2 linked regions of the Homo sapiens genome follow. Changing the gene in region 1 together with any one later gene gives a genetic interaction. Each region holds a gene or a part of one and is shown in the gene's direction. Other genes may lie near its edges.

Region 1 (2,805 bases):
GCACCTTCCCCCTACCCGAGTTGTGAAAATAAAAAATGTTTCCAGACATTGCCAGGTGTCCACACGGGCAGAATCGCCCTGGTTGAGAACCACTGTGTGCGCGTGCTTGTGTGTGCACCTGCGTGTGCGCGTGTGTGTGCGTGCGTGTGTGCACATATGCGTGTGTGTGTGTGTGTGTGCACGTGCGCAGGTTGTAATGAAGTCTCCGCTGGGAAGGAAGCAGGGAAGCAGGCATTGTTGAGTGTCGATTGTGTTGTGATTTTCCTCCACTTTGGTCTCGAGGTCTCTCTGGAGGGTGGCTGTGAACTCTGGCCCTGCCGTGACGAGGCTCCAGGGAGCTGTTGTGGGCGTTTACAGCCTGCCTTTCATGAGACATTTCATCCTGGCGCATAGCCTAATGCCTGCGTGTCCGCCCCGTGAGCAGCTGTCCCTCCCATAGGAGTGTGTACCTCTTGCAGACGCCCTGCGGCTCCCGTCTGACCCACGTCTAGTTTCTCCCCACCAAAGTCTCCCCTCGCTAGGAGAGCCCTGACCAGGAGGAGAGTCGGGCCCAGGCATGTCGGTCAGGGAAGCAGAGAGGAGGCCCCGCGGCAGAACACGCAAGGCCAGTGCAGCTCTTTATGTGTTTATTTTGAGCCGGAGTCTCCCTCTGTCGCCCAGGCTGGAGTGCAGTGGCACGATCTCGTCTCACTGCAACCTCTGCCTCCTGGGTTCAAGCCATTCTCCTGCCTCAGCCTCCTGAGTAGCTGGGATTACAGGTGCTCGCCACCATGCCCAGCTAATTTTTGTATTTTTAGTAGAAACATGTTTCCCCATATTGGCCAGGCTGGTCTCGAACTCCTGGGCTCAAGCAATCCGCCAGCCTCAGTCTCCCAAAATGCTGGGGTCACAGGCATGAGCCACCGCGCTTGGCTGGTGGTGGTGGTGTTAATTCATCACAGGCGAGCCCTTCCTCTCCCACTTGTTTTAACCTCTGTGTGAATCGGGGATTTCTGGACTTTGCTTTGAACGGTGACATCTGGCCAGCCCTGTCGCCGCCACCCCTGAGCGTGGGTCTCTCTCTCTCTCTCGGGTGTCCCCGGCTGCAGCTCCAGAAGGTCCTGAGCCTCGGCCACATCAGCACCGACTACCCGCTGGCCGAAACCATCCTCCTGCTGGGCTTCTTCATGACCGTCTTCCTGGAGCAGCTGATCCTGACCTTCCGCAAGGAGAAGCCGTCCTTCATCGACCTGGAGACCTTCAACGCCGGATCGGACGTGGGCAGCGACTCGGAGTATGAGAGCCCCTTCATGGGGGGCGCGCGGGGCCACGCGCTGTACGTGGAGCCCCACGGCCACGGCCCCAGCCTGAGCGTGCAGGGCCTCTCGCGCGCCAGCCCCGTGCGCCTGCTCAGCCTGGCCTTCGCGCTGTCGGCCCACTCGGTCTTTGAGGGCCTGGCCCTGGGCCTGCAGGAGGAGGGGGAGAAAGTGGTGAGCCTGTTCGTGGGGGTGGCCGTCCACGAGACACTGGTGGCCGTGGCCCTGGGCATCAGCATGGCCCGGAGTGCCATGCCCCTGCGGGACGCGGCCAAGCTGGCGGTCACCGTAAGCGCCATGATCCCCCTGGGCATCGGCCTGGGCCTGGGCATTGAGAGCGCCCAGGGCGTGCCGGGCAGCGTGGCGTCCGTGCTGCTGCAGGGCCTGGCGGGCGGCACCTTCCTCTTCATCACCTTCCTGGAGATCCTGGCCAAGGAGCTGGAGGAGAAGAGTGACCGTCTGCTCAAGGTCCTCTTCCTGGTGCTGGGCTACACCGTCCTGGCCGGGATGGTCTTCCTCAAGTGGTGAGCGGCCTCGCCATTGTCCCTGCCGCCGGAGCCCGCCGGGAGCCCCGGGCCGGACACAGGCCGCGTCCCCCGGCCGCGCGTCCCCCAAGAGCGAGCACTGTGGCCCTGGGCCACCACCTGTGCACAAGGGGCCTCCCGGGACCAGGCTGTGCCCCCGATCCTACACCCTGAGCCTCAGAGCACTGCTACTTTTTAAAATACTTCTTTCTCTTAAAAGTCTTTACCAAAGCTGTGTGGCCATGTCAACCTCGGGCCGTGGGGTGTGGCAACCCACGGGCGGGAGGGCCAGGACCTGGGTCCCGGTGAGATCGGTCAGGACCCTCCTCTCCCTGCCGCACACCCCCAGCCTGTGAATAAGGACGGGAGCATTTGGCTGCTGTGGCCAGAGTGAGGGCCGCGCCGCCTGTGCCTCAGGAGCCAGCTGGGGGCCCTGAGGCCCCAACGTCTACCCTACTCTGTTGCCAGGATCTCGCCGCCCGAGCCCCGAGTGTCTTGAGGCTTATTAGAGGTTGGAGTCACTGCGATGGGACAGCCGGGCTCCGTCCCTCCTGCCACACAAGGCTGTACCCCCTGTGAGTGGGCCATGTACCCTCAGGAGTGCCCTCTCCTTTTCCCTTTGCTGGGTGGCTCCTGGAGCGGGGACCCCTGGGCCAGGACCCCCGGGCCAGGTGAGTGTCACAGTTTCCTGAGACTCACGAGCAGGGCCAGGAGGCAGCTTAAAGATCAGTCCTCAGCTCTGCTTACACACACCGGGGTCTCCAGAGGAAGATGGACCCCACTAGCGGTGGGGCAGGGGCCCCGCGGTGCGATCCCTCCCGTGGACACAGGGACGCTGCTCCCGAGAGGGCAGGAGCACGGGGGACGAGCAGCCGGGCGTGGGCTGGGGCAGCCCTGGGCTCCTGGCTCTGTGGCAACCTCCGGAAGGCCTGAGCCGTCGTCCCGGCAACCCTGCCGGGTCTGGGGAGGTGAGAGCTGGGGAGGGA
Region 2 (3,808 bases), on another chromosome or scaffold:
CCTGCGGGGATCAGATTTCCCTGGGGTGGGGTCCTGGAAATAGGGCATCAAGAGGAAGTCTCTAACCCTGGGAGTTGGAGGGTCTCGGGTCCATGGCTGAGGGTGGATGTGCTAGAACTGGACTCTGGAACCTGAAGACCCCCGGATGAGGGTGCTCAGGGCCTGGCTGGGGAGACTCTTGCCTTGTTCTCCCCAGTGTCCAGGCCTGGGCTGCCCAGGGGACACTTCAGTTGATGACGTCATTGTCCAGGAGGCTTTTCTCTTGGACCTCAGTTTCCCCTTCTGCAGGATGGGCTGGACCCACTCTGTCTAGCTCTACCACCCCCTAGTCCCTCTGGGGAGCTGCAGGAGCCTGTTCCCACGGCCTCGTCCTCACCCGCCACGGAGACCTCGAAGCCAGGCCTGGCCCAGCTAGAGGAGGTGACGGGTGGCCCTGCCCTGTCCCTGTCCCCATCTCAGTCCCCTTCCCACGGGACCGGTGCTCCCGGCTGCTCTCCTGGCCCTGGGTCCCTCCTGTGACTCAGGCTTCCTGGAAGAGGCTCGGGAGGGCTCGGAGGATTCCCCGCCACCCCACCCAGGGTTTCTGCCCGCCTGCCTCAGGTCCCTGTCACCACCCCTCCTGTGGCACACGGTGTGCTTTACCTGCTCATCCACTCCGCCCTTGCCCCTAGAGCCGGTGCCTCTTACTCCTGGCACCCCCACTCTGGCATCTTCTACTGATGCCTGGAACGCTGGCCCCCTCCTCTGGCTCGCCTGGTCCTGGGGCCCCTGCCAAGGCAAACATCTTCTCCTTTAATCTCCCCGTCCTGGGTCAGCCGCAGAGGCCCTTCCTCCCGGGCTTTGCTTCCCTCTGGCCAGCTGCCCAGAGGCCCATCTGCTGGGAATTGCCGTGTGGAGCTCAGGGGGTCCCTGGGGGTGCCCGGGGCTCCCGGCTGCCCCTCCCCTCGGTGGCCTCCCTGTCCCCTCCGCATGGCCCTGGGGAGCTACAAGGCCTGGCCCTGGCTCTGCCGACTCTCCCTGCTCCTGCCCTTTCTGGGCCTCCGTTTTTGTGTCTGGAGAATGGGGAGCCTGGGGGAGACCCCGGCCCCCACAGCAGATGGGTGGGATCAGGACAAAGGCCTGGCAGCTGAGCTCCAGCCACCTGAGCCAGGCTGCTTGCTTCTGAGTCGGTGACTGCAATGGATGGACGGGGTCCTGGTGGCATGCCCTTTACTCTCTTCCAGGCCTGTGACCTGGGGGAGGGCTGTCCATGGGTGCCTCAGTTTCCCTACCTGCCAGGTTGTGTTCTTGGGGCAGGCTGGGGACGTGCAATGGCAGCACTGCGGGACCCACAAGGAGCTCACATGGGGGAGAGGCGACATTTGAACAACGCTTCAAACATGTAGTTATTGTTTTCTCTTTTTTGAGACGGAGTCTCACCCTGTTGTCCAGGCTGGAATACAGTGGCACGATCTCAGCTCACTGCAAACCTCCGCTTCCCAGGCACAAGCGATTCTCCTGACTCAGCCTCCTGAGTAGCTGGGACCACAGGCATGCGCCACTATGCCCAGCTATTTTTTGTAGAGATGGCATTTCACCATGTTAGCCGGGCTGCTTCTCCTGGACTCAAGTGATCCTCCTGCCCCAGCCTCCCAAAGTGCTGGGATTACAGTGTGAGCCACTGCGCCCGGCCCACCACTGTGCCTGGCCTGCCTCTGCGCCTGGCCCACCTCTGCGCCTGGCCCGCCTCTGCACCTTGCCCACCACTGTGCCCGGCCCACATCTGTGCCCGGCCCACCACTGTGCCAGGCGCAAACGTGGTTATTGTTTTAGACACACATTTGGTGATGTTCATTATAAAAATTCAAACAGCCTGGGAAATACACGGCTGCAGTAGCTCTGGGCTTCTGCTTCATTTCACAAGAACCGTGCCGGCCTCGGGTGCTGTTTTACAGTGTCACTTGAAATTTCCCTGGGTGTTGACTGGGGTCCTCTCCCGATGGCACCCTTGGACCCTGGTCTCTGGGTCTGGTCAGATGCTTGTTTATTAACCAGCCATCCCCCCACCCCCATGATGGGCTCTCCTAAGTGAGGCCATGGACAGCCAGGATGTGCGTCTCGGCACCGGGGTGAGTCTTTCTTGGCCCGCTGGCAGAACCCTGGGTCAGATGGGAGGGTTGTTGGTGCCCGGCTGTGTGTCTGCCAGCCCCTTCATCCCTATCCTGGCTGCTGTGTAGCTCCTGCCTCCCCATAACTCTTGGGGGGCTGCCCGGGTCCACACTGGCCCCGTGGGGATGGCAGTAGGCAGAGAGGGGCGGTCCTGACCCCAGAGAAATCCCATGGGTGAGTAGGACTTGTAGGAGATGGCAGTTCCCTCCCTGGAGCATGTGTCCCCAAGACTTAGAGGTCGTGGTGGGGCAGGAAGCAGGTAGTCAGGGTGGGCTTTTGGGAGGAGATGGCATCACAGTACGGAGGGAGTCATGCACGAGGCACCAGGAAGGGGCAAGCCGGGTGAGGACAGGCTCCTCCTGGGGACCCAGGACCTGACGGAACGGCATCACTCTTAATGGCACCGTCGCGAGCCTCTTCTGGGCCAGCAGCCGGAGCTCACCCAGGGCACATCCTTAAACCTCAGGGTCCCCTGGTGGCAGCTGCCATGGTCGTCCTGTTTCCCAGGGAGGGAAGCTGGTGTCTGAGGCTGGCACTCTGCTAGGTAGCACAGTTGGGGAGTGGCAGTGCTGGGATGGAAGACAGACAAGCTGGCACCTGCACATCTGCACGTCCTGTCGTTGAGGTGACCTCTAGCCAGCCAGCTCATCTGCTCCTTTGCAGATGAGGCCAGAGAGACGGGAGTCTCTGGTGTGGAGGGGAGGGCACTGGGTTTGGTGGGCTGGCCCTGGGGTAACTTGCCTGCCTGTGCTTCAGTGTCCCCCTCTGTAAACAGGGTGTGACGTCCCCCCGGCCATGTCGGAGGCTCCGAGAGGGCAGCGGGTCCATCTCAGCAGATGCTCTGCTGACGGATGCTGCTGGCTGGCCCCTGCTCCCACCCTCCCCTCCTTTGGTAGCCTCCCTGGGCCGGGCTGTTCCCACGGCTGCCCAGCCACAGGAAGCCATCTGGAGGCCTTGTTTACCCCTCCCCCTGGCCTCCCTGGCAGGAAGTCACCGGAAGGGCCGTCCCGAGGGGCCCCGGGCCTGTGAGGACAGCCATCGGCTCAGAGGTCTGTGCTGTGGAGTCCCAGGATAGCATGCGGGGGCAGGGAGCTCAGAGAACAGCAGGTGGAGCGGGGCTCCAAGGCACTGGAGCACGTGGGCCGGAGCATGGACAGAACCATTTACCGAGCGCATCCATCTGTCCATCCACACAGTCACCTACCCCTCCCCCGCTGTGGCCCCAGCAGGGCCCAGTCCCATGAAGCTCACAGTCTCAAGGCATGGACGAGGCCACTCCAGCTTCAGCCCAGGGGGGCCCCGTGATGCCAGGGCCATTCCTCCAGCTCCCGGGATCCCACACCTCCCCTGATATCACACAAGCCACCCTGGGTCGGGGCTGGAGGAGGAGACCTGGGCAGCAGCTGGGGTGTCCAGGAGAAGGGAGTTGGGGAGAGGGGTGCCAGCAGAGGGTGCAGCCTCTAGAAACATTGGAGGCCGCCCTGGGTGACGGGTCTGAGGCTGCAAGGTGTGGGTGGAGCAGGTGAAGGGAGAGGTGGGCAGGCACAGCTGGCAGGGGCTGAAGGCATGGATGGGACCAGTCGGGGTACTTGTGGCCCTGCAGAACCCCTCTCTCCACCACCTCCTCCAGCCCTCTGGCGCCCTGCTCAGGGAGGGCTCC

Evidence for each region.
Region 2: changes in SLC39A3 (region 1) and PTP4A3 together harm fitness less than expected from each alone (positive genetic interaction), as found in Homo sapiens cells (one study listed by BioGRID).

Annotation. Positions count from the first base shown.
Region 1 is NC_000019.10:2,731,769-2,734,573, reverse strand, and holds the end of SLC39A3 (zinc transporter ZIP3), read left to right. Parts: exon of another isoform or gene 1-48; intron 49-1,088; coding exon 1,089-1,823; 3' UTR 1,824-2,050; downstream 2,051-2,805. UniProt on the Homo sapiens protein: Transporter for the divalent cation Zn(2+). Mediates the influx of Zn(2+) into cells from extracellular space. Controls Zn(2+) accumulation into dentate gyrus granule cells in the hippocampus.
Region 2 is NC_000008.11:141,398,521-141,402,328, forward strand, and holds part of PTP4A3 (protein tyrosine phosphatase type IVA 3), read left to right. Parts: intron 1-2,050; exon of another isoform or gene 2,051-3,808. UniProt on the Homo sapiens protein: Protein tyrosine phosphatase which stimulates progression from G1 into S phase during mitosis. Enhances cell proliferation, cell motility and invasive activity, and promotes cancer metastasis.